Linked DNA regions of Homo sapiens. The protein of the gene in region 2 interacts with the protein of the main gene of each other region in a pairwise test. Each region holds a gene or a part of one and is shown on either strand. Other genes may lie near its edges. The genes, in order: IRS4 and MAGEL2.

Evidence for each region.
Region 1: the proteins of MAGEL2 (region 2) and IRS4 interact in a two-hybrid assay, tested with the Homo sapiens proteins (one study listed by BioGRID).

The regions. Positions count from the first base shown.
Region 1 is NC_000023.11:108,721,642-108,733,563, forward strand, and holds part of IRS4 (insulin receptor substrate 4), read right to left. Parts: coding exon 10,938-11,922; coding exon of another isoform or gene 10,930-10,937; exon of another isoform or gene 10,856-10,929; intron 10,257-10,855; coding exon of another isoform or gene 10,252-10,256; exon of another isoform or gene 1,387-10,251; coding exon of another isoform or gene 1,361-1,386; exon of another isoform or gene 883-1,360; coding exon 878-882; coding exon of another isoform or gene 772-877; 3' UTR 1-771. UniProt on the Homo sapiens protein: Acts as an interface between multiple growth factor receptors possessing tyrosine kinase activity, such as insulin receptor, IGF1R and FGFR1, and a complex network of intracellular signaling molecules containing SH2 domains.
Region 2 is NC_000015.10:23,642,585-23,655,405, forward strand, and holds MAGEL2 (MAGE-like protein 2), read right to left. Parts: upstream 5,284-12,821; 5' UTR 5,159-5,283; coding exon 1,409-5,158; 3' UTR 965-1,408; downstream 1-964. UniProt on the Homo sapiens protein: Probably enhances ubiquitin ligase activity of RING-type zinc finger-containing E3 ubiquitin-protein ligases, possibly through recruitment and/or stabilization of the Ubl-conjugating enzyme (E2) at the E3:substrate complex.

The DNA.
Region 1 (11,922 bases), on a different chromosome or scaffold from region 2:
GCCCAGAGAAGCAGGGAGGGGCCTTGGGAAGAGACTTTTGAAGAGCTTTGTTTCTTTTAGGAGGTAAATGTAGGTTTCACAATAAATGAAAAATAATAGGTTTGGAAATACTCAATCGATTTTCAGGCAGAACATCACAGTGTTGTATGTGAACAAATAGCTGTTTCTCAGTTCTGCCTTTAAAATGTTGGAAATGCTCAATCAAGATATTAGTTTCATTGACATATAACATGAGCAGAATGTTGCAGTTTTGCTAATGAGCAAAACTTGAAATAATCTGCCCTTTAGTCCTGCCTTTAAAATACTGGTAATGCCCCATCAAGATATCAGTTCAGTTGACATTTAATTCATTGATCAAGAAATGTTTTGTGTGTGTAATACTCGGAAAAAAGATTCCAGATCATACCTTCCTTCCAATTATGACAGCTGTTTTTTCTTTATGTGCCCTGGTTTAAAGTTTTTCAACTTCAAAATTGAATCTAAATATTTTACATTATTAAAATTGGCATTGACCAAATTTATATGTATTCTAAGTTACTTTTTTTTAAAGAGGGAAAGAGTTATGAGATGCTCACTTGTATAGTATCTGTTTCCTTTCAAAGGGACAGACTGGGGAGGAAAACCAGAAAACAAAAAACAAAGCACAGTGTAAATATTGTTAATTAGAAATCACTGGATCCATAAGCAGCAGTATGAATGATCTGCATGAATAGGATCATTCAATTGCCAGAGTCCACTTGTAGGCTTGTAGAAATTTGGGTTGCTTTCTACTCAGAAGCCTCTGAGTTTTCTTTCCTTTAGGCAGATCTGGAGTAGACGAAGATAAAATTCCATAAGCATCACTTTTCTTCTAAAATGTGTTTTTGTGGCAATATAATCACTCTAGGAAAAAGATAATAAAACAAAAGTTACTTGCAGAATTAATGTGGAGAGCTGTCACCCCCACCCTGTTTTAAAACAAAACAACACAAAACAAAACAAAATCTAACTAGAAGTTTTTGAGAGATATACAGAGGAGACTGCCTGGGCATGGACATGGTTAATCAACTCTGCTGGCTGCCTGTGAGGAATATCAGCTGGGCAAAGACACAAGGGCAGTTATTCTTCTTGCCCCCAGGCTGTCACTGACATTTCTGGTGGACAGCATCTTTGCACGTGCGTGCACTGTTCTACTTTCTTCCAGTGGAGCCCAAGAGTGAGCCAGGCATTGTGCAGAGAAACAGATTTTTTTCTTCTTCTTCTACATGTTTGACTCTGCCTTCACCAGGTTATGTGGCACAAGTCATAGGATTTAAGTACAGCATTGGTGATGGTCTCTAGACTCAATCATTGAATTTCTTCTAATAGAACAAAGTCATACCTGCAAAGGAGACTTGAAATTCCCATCTGTTTAATAAAAGAAAAAAGTTCCAGCATTATTCTCTTGGCTTTCTGCTTTTGAGTGGGTGCATAATGGGGAGTGTGGCAGGGGGTGATCAGATACATAGAAGAAGGTGCTGGACCAGAGAAGGGATAGGAATAAATGATCAGCAAATTGATTATGGGATGCCAGTGTTACCTTAAGATCAGGTCACCACAAAGTACCAAGTATTCTATTTTATTTGAGACATCTTAAAAGAATCCATGGAAAACATCCCCCAGAGTGGGCTTCAAGTACAAGATTGTCTATTAAACTGGAAATATACATTTTAAGTATTCATTTTCTCATCAAAGGTTTTACAATTTTTTTAAAGAGATGAGGTCTCACTATGCTGCCCAGGGTGAAGAGCAGTGGCATCATTATGGCTCACTGCAGCCCCACCCAGACTCCTGGGCTCAAGGATTTTTAAAATGTAACAAATTTGCAGCTGGATGAAGCACTGAGTGGGAACAGTACATTTCCCTCTTACTAGTTGTGTCTCTTCATTAAGATTCAATGTATAGGTTTGTTCTTGTAGATTAGAAGTTTAAAAAAATGCTAGCCATGGTGGCTCATGCCTATAATCCCAGCACTTTGGGAGGCCAAGGCAGGTGGATCCCTTGAGGCCAGGATTTCAAGAACAGCCTGGGCAACATGGTGAAACCCTGTCGCGCAACTACACTCTAGCCTGGGTGACAGAGTGAGACCCTGTCTCAAAAAAATGCCATAGATTAGTAAAGGTATTAAGCTTTCCTGTCAGCAGTGGGTTTAGGAAATTTTACATTTTATGTATCTAGTTCTACACAGGAAGAAAGGAGTCTGTGATAACCACAGTTAACTGTGAGACTGCATATTAGTAACTGTTAATTCGCTGCAAAATTAGGCTAGACCAGTACCAGTATTACAGTGTTATCAGATATCAGCTACATTTTAAAATAGATATTTAAGGTTAGGAAGGTATTTCACCTAGTTTAGTTTACTATTTTGTTTTAATACCAAAAATATTTTCATATGTCCATATATAGCACATTGCATGTGCTTTAAAAGGGACTTCTTGCTGTCTTATATGATACACTGGATTTCATATATATTTTCCCAGAAACCTGCAAATTAAGCTCCATATAACTACCCTATTGGCATTATACTAAGATTAGGAACATTTGCTTTTATTGGAGTTGTTTTTCTTTCTCTTTCCTTTTTTTAAATGACAGAGCCTCTACTAAAATTTGATTCATATTGCCATTGCTTTCCTATAACACCTACACCAGCATTAAGTGAATGTTTGGTAACTTAATAAAAAGTGACAAATAATTGTGTAATTTCATGTTTACTTCACAAAATACATTTGTCAATTCTTGATTAACTATGCTAGTAGAAAGGAATAATGTTATCCCAAACAGGATAATCCCAAAATAATTTAACTTGCTTTTGAAATGCATTATGGGAACTTGAGCCACAGATTTGCCTTTATAATCCTATTTTACTTAGGCCAATATTAAAATGAGTTTACATTCCCGGGGCACATTCCAAAGAACAGCGTAAGGAAGCAACTCAGAAGCTTGCTGGGTGGCAAAGGAAAGCAATTCGAGATTAAAACTTGGTTGTGAACAGTCTGCAAAATGAATATTAAAGGGCTAAAAGTCATACCTTAGATTTGTCTCCCGTTCATTTTTATGTGATTTCACCATCAGCAAGGTAAATGGTGATGCTTGTAATAATGTGGTCTGTTTTGGATGTATTATTCCCATTTGATACTGACAGGTTATAAATACTTACCTTATTGTATATTCTTATTTTCCCAATTAATCAAAGGTCTTTTAAACAACAAGTTAATTTCACCCTTTTTAATGGGTGGTATACTCTTCAGGTAATTTTTCTCTGTAATATAGAAAACCTCAGTGGACTCTGATGAGTCAAAATATTTCCCTACTCCTCCTACCAAAATCTGGCAGGGAACTTTTTTTTCTCAAAAACAAATGAAGTAAACTTTTCTGTTTCGAGTTATATAATGATATAAACCTGAACATTAATCTTTAATACGCTAATAATGCACAGATGACTTCAATATCCCTGGAAATTTGTAGGGTGAGCCAAGTAGGCAGTTCCTCCAGGGTATTTCAGACCTCTTTATATGAATCATAAATATGCCTCTATTACATTTTGAAGTCCGAAACAGCAGTATTTCCTCTGCTCAGAGAAAGGTGAACCTATAACAATATATTGTTATTCTCTCATTCTCTTTTCCCTTTCTGCAAACTTATTGTCTTAGTTATCTTTTCAGCTCCAATTTTCCTGGAGCTCAAAAATGTTTTTCAAGGGTTTTTGCAAATTCCTCACTCTGTTCATTTGACAACATGCTATCCCTGCACCCCTGTGATCAACTGGAGCTCACATAAGCAGGGGCAACCAAGTAAAGCACCAAAAAAAAAAAAAAAAAGGGAAGCAAAGAAAGATATGTTGAAGCATACATGCCAAAGATGAATGTATAATAATGCAATTATATTAGTTAGCTTAGCATTGTCTCTGGAGTATATGTAGGTTTTTTTGTTTTTTCTCAATAAGAAAGGATCATCATACTTTTCTGTGCCCTGTGATTGTAGAGGAGGATGACTCTCTAGGACTTGATAAAATTAAGTGCTATTGCTCAAGGCTAAAAACTAGTAATAATCGCTGCTAGTCTTTACAACACCAATTATACCAGACTATTATCTCCTTCATAGATCGGATGATAAAATACCTTTGTTCCCACAATGGCAATAGTTTTGGGACAGAATGCTCAAAAGAATCTGTAAGGGAAATGTATGACACTTGTAAACCCCCATCTCCTCAAAGGTCAGCTCAATCGTTTTACACCTGCCCTTTGTTAGCAGGCCCTGGGCCACTTATGCATGTGCATTCCAGTCTTGAGTATCTGGATACAAACTCTATGGAGATCAGCTACAGGATTTTCATGGTAGGTCAGCTTCTCCACTACTTCCCAACACACACATGGGCCACTTCACTCTGCTGCCTAGTTACTGCCAACTTAAAGAATGCAAGTTACTAGAATTCTAATATAGGCAGTTTCAAATTTACAAAACAGACATATTCCAAGGTCATTGTTTAGTTGAAACTCAGAATAAATTATCTTGTAGAAACAATGTCATAAATTAATGGTGGATAGGTTTATAGCTTTGTCTAGATATGCCTATATTTAACCTATGCAACTCCTGAACTAACAGAGAACTATTTTGACTATACCCAGTCATCATTTCTGAGGGAAGATGTATGTGAAGTTTCAGTTTGAGACTCCAGGAATATATGTCTTCCAGCCATGGCAATAGGAATTGTGTCCCCCATACTCAACCAGTTGGAAGAGTCGGAGGCAGGGTGACAGCCGAAGGGAAACTATGGTAAAAGCTGCAGCAACAATAAGGACTTCATCATGGAGGTGGGTGGGGGCACAGGACTCTGAGTGCGAGGACAAGGTTGGTAAGCTTTCAAGACTGGAGGCATAAAACTTTAAAAAGCAAGAGTAAAAAATCACATTTGCTGGTCAGACTTTCAAGGGCCCCATGGATACACATGTGAGCAATTTTCAAGATTAATTGTGAGATGGAAACTTCACTGTTATTCTAAGTTTCAAGTCTATAAGTAGGAAATTATTAATCATAGGAGAAAAATTATATAAATTGTCAAAACTAGCTAAAGTGACTACAATATATAGGGAATTAGATATTCGGTAAATCCAGAAGGTGTGGCTGGCATCAAACATATTGTGATCAATCCAACCATGAAAATAGCTTTAAACACCGGCCCAGCTGCTTCTGTGCCAAGTGACAGTAGGGCAGGCAGCACAGCCTTGGATCTGTACAACAAGGATCCCTACAAGGAAGGTTGCCTCTGCAAGCTAAGTGCAAGAAGGCTGTGTACTGGGAGTGATCAACATCTGGCGAAGCCCTCTATGGGCCCTGCAGGACTCCCACAGTGGCCCTCACCTTTTCAGCCAGAGAGAGACCAGGAAAGGGCATGTTTGCCTGAATTCAAGGGCACAAGTTTGGCAAAGGGCACATGAGGGTAAGACTCACAGAACACAACCAATGCAACCCTAACCAATAAGAAAGAGGTATCAGGAAGCTAAGAGAAAATAGCAGTAACTTTCTCATTTCACTTAATAAGTATTTAAGTACATGTTTTCCATTCTAAAAGAAATTAATTATTCAGCCAGAAGTTGAAAGGTACCCTCTAAAAATGCATATCTAAAACAGTATATAATTTACACTAGAAACATCTTTAAACATTCCTATTTCTCAAGTGTTGAGTCTATTTTTCCAAAATAAGGTGGAAATGTGAGACCTGTAGCTACATTACCAATAATCAATGCAGAATTGCTGGAGAATATATTTTAAGTTCATATGGCAAGCACATTTTTCTTGGCAATTTTATCAATAGCTTTAAAATCAGCAATCCAATGATTGTGGCAAAAACTCAGTGCTTTGTGATGTATTTATTTCATTATTATAAAAAGCAGTGTCTTAAATTTCTCATTTCTCATTCAAGACCAAGCAACGTTTTCTAGTAAATGATCCTCACTATCTAAGAGTCTGGCAGCACCTCTTAGAGAAAATATACTGAAAGTTTTAATTAAGCATTTTACAAAAGCTATTTTCCAATACTGCCAATAAAACGTCTGGGCTATTTTTATATACTCTTAAAGCCTTAAAAAAGGTGCTAAATCAAAATGAACTTAATTGTAAACAGGGATTTCTATGTCCCAAGGAGAGAGTTTGATTTTCAAGGCTTCTAAAATCTACTTGCCTGACTGCCAAAAGCAAGTTCACTTTTTAAACAAATGAAGAACGTCTATTGCTACACTGCTTATTCTTCCACCTGTCTTACTTTATCCTGTTTTGCCTACTGTGCTGATTTAGATCAGAATACCAAATTTTATAATGAAGGAAGAAATTAAATGAAAAGACTTTTTGCTATAACTCCCAAATGTCAATGAATTATTAGGAAAATCAAAGAAATCTAACTTCAGTTAAAGAAATGACCATTAATGGAAATTTACTGAATGCACCCTCAATTCACTTTCTTTCCTTTCAATGTTTCTGTGGGATCTAAATAGATACATACACTATTTGTGTTTGGGCAGTGAAGATTAACCAACTCCTCCCTATATCAGATTTAAAACATTCAATTCCAGCACAAGTCAAATTCTTTTATTCTAAGAGCCAGGGCAAACAGTTCAATGTAATAAAATTACCCAGGTCCTGGAAGATAGTCCACAGTTATAATGCTCTGAATGAATTACTTACAACAAAATTTGCTACTATCAAGTGAAAGCAAACTTGTAATTTTTTCCTAATCATTAACCATGTAATAATCTGTCACCAGTGGGAAAATAACAGACTAAACACCTGATTAAAGGGAGGTGTCATGTGTTGGGTGGAGTGCTGGACTTGAAATCAGATGTATGAGTTAGATTTTCAGCTCTGCCACTTACCTTTTTGATCTTGGGAAAATTCTCAACATGGGCTTCATTTCCAGTACTTACCATCCATCAGTAAAATAATGAATGTGAATGTGCTTTGCAAACTATAAGGCAATCTGCAACTGGAAAGCATTTCCTCAATCAACAATTTGACAATTTAACAATAGACCCTTTTAAATCACATAAACTATTCCTTAGTTCTCCCTACACTCGTCAGCCACATCTATTCCCACAGGAATTATTTTTTTGTCACTCTGAGAAGCCTAAGTTTGTTCCCAAAACAGGGGATTAGGGAGAGAAAAAGAAAGTAAGAGATCTCGTTCGAATTTTTATACATGTGTGACATTCTGGTGTGCTTAATTAAAGTTCTGGTCCTTGTTTAAGGTAAGTATTTTGCTAGTAGTTGAAATTTTTACCCTGAAAACATCACTCTTAAAATAGAATGAATGCAAATGAATAATGATTGTGAACAACTTTAGTTAACTTTAATTAAGTGAAGTCCTCTTTAATTGTTAGAGGACAAATACCTCATTAGTCCAAACACTGTCCAATTTTGAGGTGTTGAATATTACCTAAAATAAATGATCCGTCAATGGTAGCTGGGAAATTTCTGCTATATGGAAATTTTTATAATAATTAACTTCAATGGAATAAAAACAATGTGCTCTTAGTGCCTATAACTGATAGCAACAAGTTTGGCAGTAGTACACTCAAAAGAAGCATGATTCCTTCATGGTGATAACAGTGTCTAACACTGAAAAATTAATTACTAAAGTTTTTTTTTTTTGCTTTTTAATACCAAGTGCCATCATAACATTACTAATTTGGCTGACCGATTCTCTCACCCCTCCTAGAGCTGCCCTTTTATATCCTCCCATCTCTTGAATAAAAAAACCAGGAAAATGTTCACCTCAAGTCATTTTGAACTATGAATTGTACATCAGGTAAGGTAGAAAAAGAAGCAAATAGTCATACATAGGTTAACAGTCAAACTAAACTGCATAAGAAACAACATTCTTCTCCTAAATGCTAATGCCTATAACCTATGTGTTTAAAATGTGAAGACTTCATCTTTAATAAATGATTAAAAATTATTTCATTTATTAATACAGTCATGTCTAAGGTTATACTTCTGGGTGTTTCTTTCTAATCGACTTGAGTAAATTCCTTTACTGTACTTACTTATACGCAATGTGACTGTAGGTAAATGGAATTACATATTAATTTTGTGTTACATGAGAACAGCTGTCTCACAGATTTATAATCTCACTTCACTTAAATGGTAATCTATAAACATGCCAACTGAACAATAATGTAAAGTATTTTAAATGCAAGTAAAGACTAACTGAAAAGTGAGATTTTCAGATGGAGAATCTTAATTTAGGTTTGTTTTTCTAAATGTAATAATAACAGTAGCAACAATAACAATGGCAATAACTGTAAAATAATTCATGTATAGTACTTACTATATGCCAGGCACTGTTCTAAGCACCTGCCATCAATTAAAATGACTTTTTGAAATACATAACTTCTAATAAAGATGGTATTTGTTCCTCTGTCAAAGCATTATGTTTTTGTTTCCTAACGTGATTGTTTTTGTTTTAATGTTAGATAGGAAAATAGAGATCAGAAATGAGTGAAAATTATTCTACAGCTTTACAATAAAAAAGGATCAGAATCATTCAGCTTGTTCTTAACACTTCACAGACAACATTCTACCATACAATTTACATTAAAATGCTAACCAAAGTCATTTCCTACAATGGGTTGTTTCACCACCATCAACACCACCACCACCACCACCACCACCCCCACCCCCGCACCCCCCCGCCGGCAATCCCCACCATTCCTTTCATGTATTTCAGCAAATTATGTGCAGGAATCACCCTCAAGATCAATTATTTTGCAAGAAACTGAATCAGTTTAAACTGCCGAAATTTCACTTCAGTATTAATCCAATGACACTAAAAATATCTTACATTTGTAAAGTGCTTTAACATTCCAAAGTGCTTCCACGTTGATTCTCTTATTTCAACCTAAGCGCCTGCCTCCCTGTGAGATAGAGCTTCCTTGCTAAAGTCACTCAATAAAGCTAGGAATTTCCTCAATAAACAATGCATTTACAGAATGTTAAATCTCCAAAATAGCTACAAAGTCATAAATCAGGAATTTATGCTAAAATAATGATCATTGTGTCTAGGTATTCCTTGGGAAGTCAGAATTTATTCAAGGAACAGTAAGATTTCACTATTTAAATCTTAAACTTCTTAAAATAAACCTCTATGAAAACTGGTCCTTTTGAAAGTACTACAGGGACACAGGCAACTGTGTATCATCTACATCAAAATTATAAATGGTGTCTTCAATAGTTAGACTCAAACAATAGATTGAGATCAATTTTCAGGTATATTCTACAGAATAAAGTAGATCTACTCTTGAAAATCTTATTATGGATTAAAGACTTGGAAATGAAATTATATATTTTAAACGTATGATTATGGTAGCAGTGGTGATCATGTGTGTTTGTGTGTGTGTGTATGTGTGTGTGTTGGGGAGGGAACTCACAGTTTAAAAGAGGTCTGAATTGAATCCTTTGGCAAGCCAAAGCATCCTTTTGTTGTTTTAATGATCACTCTTTAATGTGTCCACGCTGCAAATGTGAGTTTGTGTATGGCAAGTTTTCTATAGCAGGGAGAAAAAGGGGATGTGGGGGGGCTACACCTGCATTAAATAGGGAGCTTGTTAGGTGACTGTTGTGATCAGTGCCCGACTTGTTCTGCCTGATCAAGCACAGTGGGCAGAGATCCAATCACAAAAGCATTCCACAAAGCAAGCAAAGCAAAAATCTTCACTAAACTGACTACTGGAATGAAAACTGCTGGGGTCCATCCCTTCCCTTCACTGGGAAAGAAGCATATTCTACTTAAGAGGCAAGGTAGTTGAGACTATGGAGACATCATCCTCTGCAATCATCTCTTGAAAATGTTTCAAGACACACTGATGACAACATTCCACAATGTTGTACACAGTAGAATTACTCTAAGTCTTGTTTCCAAGTCTGACAGCTCCTACTCTTCCTTACTTCTTCCTTTGGAAAAGTAGCCCTTTAAAAACTTCCACCATTCCAGGGTAAGCTGCCCCTGGAGTCAGGTCTTCCTCCAGCCTTATCTTGCTTTCCTTGATTTCCCATAAGATATATGAATTAAATGTTTTAACTGCTTTTTAAACCTTTGAAATAATATTCATATCCATTCTCAAGTTGTCACCACACCCTCTTTTAGAAGGGTGGGGGGTTAAAAGAAGAAAATGAGGCACAGCAAATGTGACTTGCCTGTCATTACTAGTGACAGAGAAAAGGAACACTCAAGGTTTCTGGAATTTATCCTGTGTAAAAACAAAAAGAAAATCAACACACAAACACATTCCAGAGCCAAATACTGTCTTCTTTTAATCACCTCCTGTTTTGGATTATTTATGTTTTGTTCCCCCCAGACATTCACGTTAACAATTGAGATTTAACTTTCTTGGTAAATCACAGCAAACTAGCACAACAACGACTGCTCTTTAAAAAGTAACTTTCAGAGGAGAAAATTATCCTCCCTAAACATAAATAGTTGATTATTACTGCTTAATAGTCTGTGCTCTTATTAAATTCCTACACTTAAATATGGGCATTTGCAGAAAAGCAGCTTTTAATTGTTGATTTGAAAATTAGTTGGTGGAACCCAATTTACGATATCCTGCTTTACATTATCATTAAATGATGGGGAAGGATGTTTAAAAGTATCCTTATGCTTTTTATGTCTGCGTTTTAACTACTCCTAAAAAAGTAGAACCAGTGTTTAAATGATAATCAGTTCTGTCCAGATAAAGAAATTGATTAGATAAAAACAAATTTTTGCAAAGATCAAAAAGGCATTTGTGAATAATTAAAACTGAATTCTATACTCCATGTCGAATAGCACCAGTTAATGAAATAGTATCCCTAACACTGTAGACTGTAGCGCATCGAATCATTAGACAATGACCATTCACTTTAGGGAAATTAATTCTAAAATTACCGACCTCTTTTGGGAGAGTCGAACTGATTATCACGTCTGGCAAAATCCATTCTCACGTGAGTGTCGTCGTCGTTGTCAGAATCTTCTCTCTCCGGGGGTCTTGGCACCCGGCGACTGCGAGGTGGTGGTTCCGGAGCGGCAGCTGCAGCGGCAGCCCCGCCAGCCTGGTTATCACCTCTGGCAAGGTTTGCAGATGGGTTGTGGGCTCCAGGGTTCGAGCCACCGGCAACGTCTTGGGCTCCCCTTACTGCTTCGGCATCAGCAGCATTAGCAACAGGTTGAAACCAGCGGGCAGAGGCGGAGTCAAATCCAGCAGCTGCGGCTGCTGCGCCGATGCCCGGGGCTGCGGCGAGCGCGGAGGCCGCAGCTACAACTTGGCTGAGGGCTAAAGTCGGCTCTGCAGCCGAAGCGACAGCCGGGGCTGAGGATGGGGAAAGGTCTCTCTCGAGGCTGTCTGTTGGAAAAGCAGAGACAGCGGCTCTGGCTGCTGCAAAGAAACTTTGAGAACGGCTTTGTGGGCGTCTTCTCTCCTGCTCTTCTTCCTGCAGCAGCCTAGCTACAGGTGGTGGTTCAGAACATCGGCTGGGGGAGAGAGAAATATCCATACAGCACTCAGAAAATGGGTCGACCACATAGATTCGACCTGTTTCAGCATCATAGCGAATGGCACTGTCAGCAAGAGCCATGGCTGGTGTCATTGCTGAGTTGAAAATTACTTCAATGTAGTCACCCTCTTCCTCAATAGCATTGCTACCTGTAGCACTGAGGGGAAGGGGAGGAAGTGGCCACCTAGCACTGTCCAGAGATAAGGGGTTGGCACGTGGTATAGCTCTTAAAAGATCTGAGAGGTCGTTTGCTGGATTTGGAAATGGCACTCCAAACTCAACATTCACATAATTAGAAAAGGCTGACTGTCTGGGTTCAGCAATTATGCCCCACGAATCTGGTAGTCCTTGAGTAGAGGGAGCTGGTGTATTGCTCTCTCTTTT
Region 2 (12,821 bases):
AATCTGCCGCTAGGTGGCAGGAGAATTCCACCATCGCCACTAACCGCATCTGGGACTTTGGCTTCACCCTAGAAGCGGGATATGGGATTGGATTTCTTCCTTCTGATAAGACAGTATGCGGTGGCAAGTAGGGCTGATGGTCCCCTGTCCACAGGAAGAGAGTATGACCACAAGAACGTCCTTTTGTGTACACCAGCCTGGTGTGTGCTTGAATATCCTTCCTCAAAACACTCAGGCCAGTTCATTCCCTTGTCCCTTTCCTGCCTAGACCAGGTTCATAGCCAAGGGCTGACCGCGGTTGTTCAGCAACTTCAGGCGTTGCCGGCTGCCTTCCCCTACAAGTTAGAATGACCCTTCCCCCCAGGACCTTCCCCTAGAACTCTATGTTGATAGGAATGCACCCTGCCACGCCCTCCCCTAACCCAGCCACTACTGCTGGCAATCTGCAGGGTTTCTAATTAAATGAAGACTGTTTTTTCCTTTTCCCTGTTATAAGCCTGGATATCCTGCAGGGAGCACGTTTCCATCCCGGTAGCAGTGTGTTGATGAAACCCAAATTTGAACTGCTGGACACCCCGCCACGGGCCACATGATTGACAAATACCCTTTTGGCCAAATTCTCCATGAAGCGGGACCACCTGGTTATTTGTAGTCCTGCAGGCAGATGGCCCTTCTTCTCCACATACCCTTAAGGACATTTCTGCTTCTAATAACAACGTTACCAGCTGGGCACTAACGTGTGTGCTTTAATTAATCTCCTGGAGAAATCTTATGTATAACCACCCACTGAAATCACTGCATCCTTATAAAGATGAATGGAGTACTCTCCTTGGAAAACAATTCCATCACCGTGGTTTTTACTATAACTGAGAGTAGTCTTGCTATTCATGTCTATTCAGAGAATACGGCAAAACTTGGCTTCCACCATCTAGTGTAAAAATTAGAATAAAGACAAACACTTCTGTTATGCTGAAAGTATATTTATATATATAGATATAGATATTTACTTCTCTGTAGACAGTTTTTACTGATGAGTCATTTGAACGTTCAAAGAACAACCGATTACAATGCTACATGAACTATACCAGAAATGAGATGGATAGCTTCTCAATTCATTTCACAAAGCCAGCACAAAGCTGATACCAAAACATAACAATTAAAACACAAAACAGAGAACCACAGATCTCACTTAAAAACACAGATGCCAAAATACAGAACAGAACAGTAGCCGATTGAAATCAACACCACATAAAAAATGTACAAAGCTTTGGCAGATACGAAACCAAGTTGAAAATCCAAACGTACACTCGTGGAACTGGAACACAAACACCAGGAACAAAAATGTCCCCCCACCCTGTCAGTGGCCTCTGGCCAGGGAAACACAGGAGCGAGATCTCTGCTACACCTATTAGCGGGGAGGGGGCCTGCTGGTGGGGCCGTGGGCACTGTCACCGGTGTCAGGTTCATCCTCATCTGTGTCTTCCCACTCACACTCTGCGAGCGCTTCAAGGTAATGGAATGGCCAGCTCTGTGGATCTTTCTTATGGAGCTTGGCCAAAAACCTCAGGACAAGCATCTTGCTGGTTTCCAGGAATGCTCGAGGGCCCCAGAGGAACTCATACTCTGCGGGCTCAGTGTAAGGGATTCGCCTGTACTCTAGGTACTTCTGCCTGACAAACACTTCGGTGATGAGCTTCTTAGTATTTCCAAAGAGACCGTTTGTCTCCCGGACATCCAACCCTAACTTGAACAGAAAATTAAAGATCAGATCCTCCCTGACACAGTTGCCTTTCATAAAGATGAGGCTCAAGACCACCATCAGAAGGCCAAACTTGGGCCTGTCTAAATAGGATGCCACCAAATTCCCTGTATGGTAGCCCAGCTTGTTGATGATAATATAGGCGTGGTTTTTGGTATCAATTTCTTTCAATTGATAACCAAAGGCACACTCCAGCTTATTGTTGGCACGGTTGATGATATCTAAGCACTCATCTTTATACTCTCGGAGGATGACTTTCACCATCTCCGAGCGCTGGACAGGCACCTTGGCTTGGTCCTTGACTAAGAGGAACTGCACCAACGCATTTGCCCTCTCATCCAAGGGAGACAAGGGCTGTGCCTCCACCTTGGAATTATCCTGGGTGGCACTGGATCCCGGAGAGACACTTGCGACCTCAGACACAACTACGGGCAGAGAGCTCCCTGGGCTTTCAGAGAGACCCAGGGCCCTGGAGGTGCTCGGGCCCTCCCAGGCACTCAGGGCCCAGGATGCGCTGGGCCCTTCCCAGCCACTCAGGATCCTGGAGGTGCTAGGGCCCTCCCAACCACTCAGGCCACGGGGGGTGTTTGGGTGCTCCCAGTCACCCGAGACCTGGATAGGGCTTTGGACCTCCCAGTCACTCAGATTTAGATTCTCCCAGGGCCTTGGGCCCTGCCAGTCATGAAAGGCTAGCGTGTGGCCACGGCTGTCCTCTTGGGCTTCCAGATGCTTCTTCTTCCGGGTGGCCTTGCCGGAGCGGCGTGGCGGCTCGACGGAGGTCTTGGAGGCCTCTTGAGTGGTGGCAGTTGCCTGGGGGGCAGCTGCTGTAGCCATCAGGAAGGTGGGCACTGCCTGCGATGCCTTTGAGGCATTCATATTGGGCTGTGGGACCCATGGAACTGCAGGCAGGGCCTCTACACAGGCAAAGGGATCCTGCAGAGCATATGGCAGTGACTTTGGGGTCTCTGAGGCAGCAGAGGGGCCTTTAAAGGCATTCAGAGAGGCAGGCTGAAACTGGGAGGTAGCTGGGAAGACACTTGAGGAGGGAGCAAAGGTCTCCGGTGTGGCAGGCAGGTTTTTCCAGGCAGCTGGCAGGTGTGCTCGCGCAGCTGACACTGCCTTGGGAGCACAGAAGGTGGCAGCAAAGATCATGCGGTCTTTTGAAGGGGCCCTGCGCTCCTTCGAGGAGGTCCTGCGCTCTTTAGAGGAGCCCCTGCGGTCTATAGAAGAGGCCCTGCATTCTCCTGATGGAGTCATCAATGATTTAGCGGAGCCCAGGGGAAAATTTGCCGCTGCTACCGGGGGTCCGGGCTGGGCCTGCAAGACTGCAGGCGGTGCCTGCCAGGAAGGCTGGAGCGGCAGTGTGGGCACCTCCGCTTGCGGACCCGATGCCTGGGCCTGCTGGGGGGGTAGCTGGATTTGCACGGCTTTTTGGGAGGGCGGGGCTCCCTGAAAGGGCTGCTCCAGCTGGACCAAGGGGGGAGCCTGCCTCTGGGCCTCCTGGGCAGGCAGGGGCTGCCAGATGTGAGTGGGGGCCTTCTGGGCCTGCCAGGCCAGCGCCTGTGTCTGCTGCACCTCCTGGAATTCCATTGACGTTGGAATCTCGTGTGGCACCGGGGGCTGACCTTTGGGGGCCTGCCAGATGATGGAAGGGCAGTGCACAGCCTGCGGGGCAGACAGTGGGGCAGACAGCGGGGCCGGCAGCACAGGCTGGGGCACCTGCGGGCCAGCGGGCGGCGCCGCGGGTACCTGCGTAGCAGGTGGGGCCGTAGGCACCTGCGGCGCCGCCTGCACCTGCGGGGCCGGCAGCCTAGCCTGCGGGGCCTGCCGCAGTGGAGGTGGGGGTGGCAGGGCCTGCCAGAGCGGTGGCTGGGTGGCCAGGACCTGTGGGGCAGGTCGGATGGGCGGCGGCGCCTGGCGGATCAGCGGCGGGGCCTGGCGGATCACAGGTGGAGCCTGGCGGATCACAGGTGGGGCCTGGCGGATCACAGGTGGGGCCTGGCGGATCACAGCGGGGGCCTGGCGGATCACGGGTGGGGCCTGGCGGATCACGGGTGGGGCCTGGCGGATCACCGGTGGGGCCTGGCGGATCAGCGGTGGGGCCTGTCGCACCGGTGGTGGGCCAGGGCGGATGGGTGGTGGGCCAGGGCGGATGGGCGGGGGCCCCTGGCGCATGGGCGGCGGCACCTGCCAGGTAACGGCTGGTGCCTGCCAGGTGACCTGCGTGGTCTGCCAAGTCAGGGGAGTGGCCTGCCAGCCTTGCTGCGTGGCCTGCCATCCTGGCGAGGTCGCCTGCCAGCCCGGGGGTGTGGCTAGCTGCGCTGGGGGTGCCTGCGGGCCCTGGGGAACCTGCGGAGGAGCCCTTATAACTTGAGACTGGATTTGCAGGATCAGAGGCTGAGCCTGCGGGGCCCAAGAAGCCATCGGCTGTGCAGGTGGGGCCATCGGCTGTGCAGGTGGGGCCGCCGGCTGTGCCATCGGTGCTCCTGAAGCTGGAGGCTGGGTCATCGGAGCTCTCGCACCTGGAGGATGAATCATCAGGACTCCTGGACCTGGAGGCTTGGCCATCGGTGCTCCTGAAGGCTGAGGCTGGGTCATCATGGCTGCTGGAGGCGGCTGGACCATCGGTGCTCCCGGAGCAGCAGGCTGGACCATCAGGACTCCCGGAGTCAGAGGCTGGGCCATCAGGACTCCCGGAGCTGGAGGCTGGGCCATCGGTGTACCCGGAGGGGGAGGATGAGCCATCGGTGTCCCCGGAGGTGGAGGATGAGCCATCGGTGTCCCCGGAGGGGGAGGATGAGCCATCGGTGTCCCCGGAGGGGGAGGATGAGCCATCGGGGTCCCCGGAGGAGGAGGATGCACCATCGGGGTCCCCGGAGGAGGAGGATGGGCCATCGGGGTCCCCGGAGGAGGAGGATGGGCCATTGGGGTCCCCGGAGGGGGAGGGTGGGACATTGGGGTCCCCGGAGGAGGAGGATGGGCCATGGGAGCTCCGGGAGCTGAAGGATGCACCATCAGGACTCCCGGGGTCGGAGGCTGGGCCATCGGGGCTCCCGGAGGTGGAGGATGCACCATCAGGACCCCGGGAGTCGGAGGCTTACCCATCGGGCCCCCCAGCGGGGGAGCCGGGACTATCGGGCCCCCTAGGGCAGGAGGCTGGGTCATCGGAACCACCGGGGCGGGCAGCTGGCCCTGTGGGGCCTCCCAGGCAGGCTGAGGTGCCTGCCAAGCGGCCAATGAAGCCTGCAAGTCAATTGGAGGTGGATCCCAAGGGACTGGCGGAGCCCGGGAGGAAGCGGGCGGGGCCCGCATCAGAACCGTAGGGCGGCTATAGACAGGCGGCTTCGGGGCCTCCGCCGGAGGACTCGAGTCACCCAGATTCTTACTTAGCTGCGACATGTCCCTTTGCTGACAGCTGGTGGGTCTTTTCCTCGGACAGCTGCTGGGCCTTTTCCTCCAGAGAGAAGAGAATGCCTACGTGGCTGTTCAGAGGCTCCCTCCCTGCTGAATGCTGAATAGGAAGTGAGTGCTGCTCGCTCCGCAGCTTTCCGCAGTAAGGAGGAGGGGGGAAGGGGGCTCAATCCCGCCCCTTCCCCGCCCCCGACCACCACAAGTGGATATTGCATAGGGGCGTCTACCGGAGTCCTGGCTGACACAGGATCCCTTCTCACTCTGTCCAGTCCCCAAATGCAGACCAGTCAGACTCCACATGGATGACTTTTCACAGGGGAGTGACAGGAACCCATCCATGTTTTAGAAAAATCACTGTACTGCAGTGTGGAGTGGGAGCAGACCACTGGAAACATGGAAGGTATCCAAGACGGCGGGGGGAGATGGTGTGGTCTGGGCTAAGATGTGAGGCGGAGAATGAAAAAAGCGCATTTACATAAGAGAGTTCCAGGAGTTATAGCAGACAGATACCTGTATTATAATTGAATAAAGGAGTCAAAGACATGGAAAAGGCACACAAGTCCCTGCCTGGAGAAAGTGGGAAGTTGCAGGGACTGTTACTCTCTTAGGGTCCCAGGAGAGGCACACGGGAAGAGAGGCTGATGAGTATTGGCAGACACAGGGCATTTGCGGTGCTGTGGGACTGCCAAGGAGAGATACCCTGTAGGCACTCCTGTATGATGTCTTGGGAGTCCTGCTTGGCTATTCCTCATGAAAATAGAGTTGTGGGAGGGAATGTGGTTGCACTGGGTCTTGAAGAACACAGGCATGTTAGAGACACATGGAGAAAAGGGACAGCAGCGAGTAGAGAGAGAGGAAAAGAAGTCACGGAACTGAGACATGCCACACATCAGTGGAAGACAGCATTTTTAGTATGGGAAAACTGCCTGTGGAATGGCTCGGATGCAGGAACAGAGTAGGTTTCTCAGTATTTTTCATCTGCAGAATGGGAAAGAAATTTAAAAAATGAAAACCAAATAACGCACCTGAAGATAACAAAATGGGTATATAAATAGATCAAAAATTGATATATTTGGATATATAGGAAAAACAGGCAAAGAATAAAAAAATTTCTGGGGAAACTTCTCGTGACAAAAATCAGTTTAAATATGAGACAAATCAAGTATTAACAGATAAAGCAGATGACAATAGTATTATTGGGCAATGCTATACAACTTTATGGTGAGAGGAAGTGATAATCTCAGTAATTGAAAAGCTTTCTGGAAATATACAAAGCACTAAATATCAAGGATGTTTCGTTTAAATAGGCTGTTGGCAGCCTACGGCAGGAGTCCAGAGTGACAAAACGTGCCACCAGGGGGCAGATGAGGACGATGAAGGGTACACCCCACTCCTTCCCAGGTACCCTTAGCCAGGGGTCCTCAAATTTGGTAATTTATGGACCCAAGAGAAGGTATGTACACACTCCCAATGTTATTATTGCCTTAAACAATAATAGAAGAATTTGGGGGTAAAGTTTCAGTGATTTTCTGGACACTTAAGGGATGTTGTTATTCCCAGGAAACTCTTTTCAAAACAGTCAGATTTTTAAGGGTGCTTGATGATACAGTAGCCCCCCCCACCTTACCTGCAGGGGATACATTCCAAAACTCTCGATGCCCGAACCTGGAGACAGCACCAAACCTTATATATACCATGTATCCCTTTCATTCTCCTTCTTCACAATTTCACAGATAGTTTTGTTTTTGCCATATATCTTAGCAATCTCAGCATGCGATTTTTTCTTTCCTTATTAAGTCAAGAACTTTCACCTTTTTCCTTCAAGGAAGCACTTCATAGCTTCCGTTTGGCATACCTAAATTGCCAGGATCACTATTCTTACATTTTGGGGCTATTACTAAGTAAAACAAGGGTTCCTTGAACACAAACACTGGGAAACCGATGGTAGATCTGATATCTGAAGCAGCTACTAAGTGGTTAATGAGCAGGTAGCGAATACAGTAGCACTCCTGTGCCTGCAGTTTCACATTGTGTGGTTTCAGTTACCTGCAATCAAATGCAGTCCAAAAAATTAAATGGAAATTTCCAGAAATAATTTATAAGCTTTAGATTGCATGCCATTCTGAGTAGTATTATGAAATTGTTCTGTTTCGTCCTGCCTGGGGCATGAATTATCCCTTTGTCTAGTGTATCCATGCTGTATATGCTACCCGCCTGTTATTCACTTAGTAGCTGTCTCGGCTATCAGTTGAAAACATCGTAGTACATATAGGATTCAGTACTATTTCCAGTTTCAGGCCTCCACAGGGGGGTCTCAGAATATATCCCCCAAGGATAAGGGTGGACTACTGGACATCACTCCTGTGTATCCCCAGAGAAGGCCATCTACCACAGCACACAAAAAGCTTCTGCAGAATGGATACTACCGTGTTTCATGGTTTTCGTTTCTCCCTTGGGTTAATGGCCCAGATCCACACAGGATTTCTCAGTTTCATGGGGGTTTGGAAACACTGTAGAAGGACAAACTCTAAATGCCTAACCCTCAGGACCTGCTATTATCAACTCTGCTACATGGCTGTTACTGGCTATGGATGGCTTTGGAAAAATCAGTTTATTTTTTAGCCTAGGGCATTTCTAAAGCATACTTTTTTTCCACTCTAATGCAAATGTATAAACTACACAGAGATTAAGTTCTCCCACTAACCGTTTATTTTCGGGAATTATGACAGGTTTGTCCTGCCGTCCACCATGCTGTTGGTCATCCCACACAATGAATGGCTCCCACTAGGGTCTGGCTATTCTCACTGATGTTGGAGGTCAGTGAATAGCACTGACATACAGTGTCAACTCCCACCGAATCTGTTCTATGAAAAGAGGTCCGGTTTATGTTAAGAGGCAACACCAAAGCCAGAAAGAAAAGATTAGGCATTATACAAAGGAAAAAACAGGTGCGTAGGAGTAGTTAGAAATGGAAGATGAATAACTTCTACACCAGCACTATTGCCACTGCTTGGAAACATTCTTTAACCGGCAGGGAAAAATCAGAGATTATGTATCCATTGATTCTATAGGAACAAGTAAAGAGGGTAAACCCAGTTTATTCTCCCTGGAAGAAACATCTGCTTATTTCAGATAGTCAGTGCTCTCAGACCCAGGCTGTTCCTGGGGCTCTCCCTAGCTATTTACAAATTACTTGTGAGCAAAATTCACCTGAGGAAACAGGGACATACGGGTCGTTTTTGAAAACTGACTGCCTTAATCACAGCAAAACATAATATTGCCCTGAGTCTAGTGAGGCATTAGACCACAAGTGTTGGGTCTTCCCAAATCACTCCTGTGAAACCTTCCTGCTTCCTGAAGCCCTCTTTCCCTTTCTGTGCATATGTTCTTCCTCCTCAACACCTTTGAACCAAGTGTTGTCAAAATTCCCTTTCCTCACTTTTATATGAAACAGCTTGAAAATTCAAGGTGAGTAGAAAACAAAAGGGAAAAACATACAAAACATCCATGAAATGTTGGCCTCTGTTCCCTAATTAGAAAGGACTTTTAATGGCTTACGTCAGTATATAACAGCAGTATACAAAATGATTTTTAAAAACAGGGAAGGGAGAACTGAAGTATTGTGATGGGAGTAGGAAAATTGCGGAACTAGGAGCAGACGGGAGCCTGTTTTGCTCACCTTGGTATCCCCAGCTCGCATTGAGTGGTCACTAAGGAGCTACAAAATGAAATGGTAAGATTAGCACCAGAACTGCCTGTCTTCCAATCTTCTGTAGCTGTTAGACTTTGTGTAAATATTCATAAGTGAGTAACAAAATCAGTTATGATTTTCATAAACTCTAAAATTACTTATTTATGAAATACCTTTTATTAAGCATTCACTATATGCCCAGCACTGTGCTATAGATAAGACTACAGAGAAAAATCTGATGCAAGTCCTATTTACATCTATTGTTAGTCACATAGGGACATTAATCTAATCTATCGTTAGTCACATAGGGACATTTCACGAATCTATTGTTAGTCATATAGGGATATTCATATGGTTTTTTAGTACAATAAGGTGTTGTCGCATTGTTTAAACCTCATATTGGTCATAGAGGATGAAAATAATCAAATACTCACTTCTGCTTGGAACATGGGGTGAGGGGAGCTGTGATGCTGATTGTAGCAGTGAAAAGAAAGAAAACAAACCTGAGGCTGTGAAAGATTCATGTGATCCAGATAGACAGTCTAAGTAGAAAAATTATTTAAAAAGCATAGGAGATATCATAAGTATGAGGTTTGAAAAAAAAAGAATTGGAAGGATTAAAATAGTGTAACTACTAGTTATCAACAATTTATTATTTGATAAAATACCATCCTCAGAGTATAATAGACTCTATTCATTGATTTCTCACAAAATCCATAAGTATTTGGCTTGATTTTACATGGCAAGAATTTGAGGCTCAGAAGATCTAGCAATACATATCAGAATTCAGATTTAAATCCCAATCTATTCGTTGTGAGAGCTTGCATTCTTTTTTTTTCTTTTTGCCGCTGACCACCAGGCAGGGTCTTGCTCTCTCACCCAGACTGGAGTGCAGTGGTATGATCATAGCTCACGGCAGTCTGAAACTCCTGGGCTCAAGCCATTCTCCTGCATCAGCCTCCTGAGTAGCCGAGACTGCAGACAGGCCATACCACACGCAGGTGATTTTTGTTCGTTTGTTTTTCGTAGCGATGGGGTCTCACTATTTTGCTCAGGCTGGCCTCAAACTCCTGGGGTTAAGTGAGCCCCCAACCTTGGCCTCCCAAAGTGCTGGGACCGTAGGCATCAGCCACTGTGCCCAGCCCATCACTCTTACCATTACACCAGGGCTGCCAAAACCTTTTAAAATATGTTAGATATAATTAACATGCAACAACATGCACAGATCTAAAGTATTCAATTTAATGAGCTTTGCCACTGAGTAATTAACACTCAAAACAATATAAATAATAGTTTTATTATCAAACAAAATTACCGTGCACCCTTTTCCAGTCAATTATTCTATCTCCAAAAACATACACTTCCTTATTTCTCTCACCCTAGATTATTTTGCCTGTTCTAAAAATTCATAAAATGGAATCAGCGTAGGAGGGAGGGAGGGAGGGAGAGAGAAAGACACACAGATAGAGGTCAATATTCCTTTGTTCAACATTTTTTAATGTAAATATGTTGCAAGTATTGGAAGTTTGCTATTTTTTATGCTGAAAAGTATTCCATTGTATTTATAACTCCATAATTTATCTGTTACCTGTTGGCATGTGAGACATTTAAAATCTGATGCTATTATGAGAAAAAGGCTGCATTACAAATTATTTTACAAGCCTTTTGTAAATATATGCTTCCATTTATCTTGGGTAAATGCCTGGGAGTTGAATGTCTGGGTCATAGGATAGACGGCTGTTTATAAGAAACTGTAAGAGTTCTCCATAGTTGGGTTAGACCATTTTACACTCTAACATAAGAATAATGTTAAGAATTAAGAATGCATACGAATTCCAGGTACTTGACAACCTTGCAAAATTTTGTAGTGTCAGTCTTTTTTGATTTTTGTTATTCAACTGGATGTGAAATGGTGATTGCAGTTTTACACTGCAATTAGCAAATATGAGGGTTCCAATGGATCCACATCATTGCAAAATTGATACAGTCAGTCAGCCATTTTTATTTTAGGCATTTCAGTATTTTAGGCAGTTCAGTAAATGAGAAATGGTATGTCATTTATTGTGAGTTTTGTTTGTGTCTTTTCTTTTTAATTAATGGATTATTTTTTAAAGCAGTTGTAGGTTTGCAGAAAAAATGAGAGGCAAGTACAGAGACTTCTCATGTATCCCCTCTCCTCTCCCACCATCCCTGTCCCCCTACCCCTGGCAATGCCCCTTATTTTTAATGTCTTGCGTTAGAGCGGTATATTTGTTACAGTCAACGAGCCAATATCATTAATTGAACTCCCTAGTTTACATTAGTATTCACTCTTTATGTATACATTTTATGGGTTTTCACACAATTGTGTGATAAATGGGTTATCACAATTGTGTGATAACAGATTTCTGTGTCCACCATTGCATTATTATATAGAAGAATTTTACTGCCCTAAAAAACCTGTGCTTTCTCCTACCAAACCCCTGGCAAATTTTGATTTTTTTTACCTTCTCCATAGTTGTGCCTTTTCCAGAATATCATATGTAGTGGGAATCATAAAATGTGTAGCCTTCCAGATTGGCTTCTTTCACTTAGCAATACACATTTAATATTCCTAATTTTGTGGCCTGGTAACTCATGTTTTTCTTCTTATCAAATAGACCTTATTTTGTAGAGCAGTTTTTGGTTCACAGCAGAATTAAGCCAAAACTACAGCAAGTTTCCATACACCCCTTGGTTCCCCCAGCACACACACGATCTGCCCCAATGTCAACGTCCTCCAGCAAAATTGTATGCTTCTCACAGCTGATGAACATCAATTGACATGTCATTATCACCCAAAGTCTGGAGTTCACATTAAGTTTCCTCTTGGTATTGTACATTCTGTGTTTTGACAAATGTCTAATGTAATACATCCACCATTATAGTATAACACGGGATAGTTTCCTAGCTCCCAAATCCTCCATGTTCTACCTATTCATCCCCTCCCCTCCCCTGCAGATACCTGGCAACCACTGATCTTTGTGCTGTCTCCATAGTTTTATCTTTTCTGGAATGTAAACTAGTTGGACACATATAGTATGTATCCTTTTCAGACTGGCTTCTTTCACTTAATAACATGCATTTTAGTTAACTTCCATATATTTTTATAGCTTAATAGCTCATTTCTTTTCAATGCTCAATAATATTCCATTGTCTGGATGTACCGAAGTTTATTTACCCATTCACCTGATGAAGGACACCCTGGTTGCTGCCAAGATTTGTCCATTACGAACAAACCTGTTATAAACATCCATGTGCAGGTTACTTTTTTTTTTTTTTTTGAGATGGGGTCTCGCTCTGTCACCCAGGCCGGAGTGCAGTGGCACGATCTTGGCTCACTGCAAGCTCTGCCTCCCGGGTTCACACCATTCTCTTCCCTCGGCCTCCAGAGTAGCTAGGACTACAGACAACCACCACCATACCCGGCTAATTTTTTTGTATTTATATTAGAGATGGGGTTTCACCGTGTTAGCCAGGATGGTCTCGATCTCCTGACCTCGTGATCCGCCTGCCTCAGCCTCCCAAAGTGCTGGATTACAGGCATGAGCTACCTTGCGCCTGGCCTATTCTGTACATTTTTCTAGTTTCTTTTTATTTTATTCCTGTTTTTTGCATTCTTAATGTATAAGCTTATGTCATTGATTTTAAATATATTCTCTTTTGTAGTACAGATATTTAAAGCTATAAAGTTATCTCTTAGCCCTATTATAGCAGCATCTTACACATTATGGTTTGTTATTTTTTAATAATTTATTTATTTATTTATTTATTTATTTTTGAGACAGAGTCTCACTCTGTTGCCAGGCTGGAGTGCAGTGGCGCAATCTTGGCTCACTGTAACCTCCACCTCCAGGGTTCAAGTGATTCTCTTGCCTCAGCCTCCTGAGTAGCTGGGACTACAGGCACCCGCCACCATGCCCAGCTAATTTTTGTATTTTT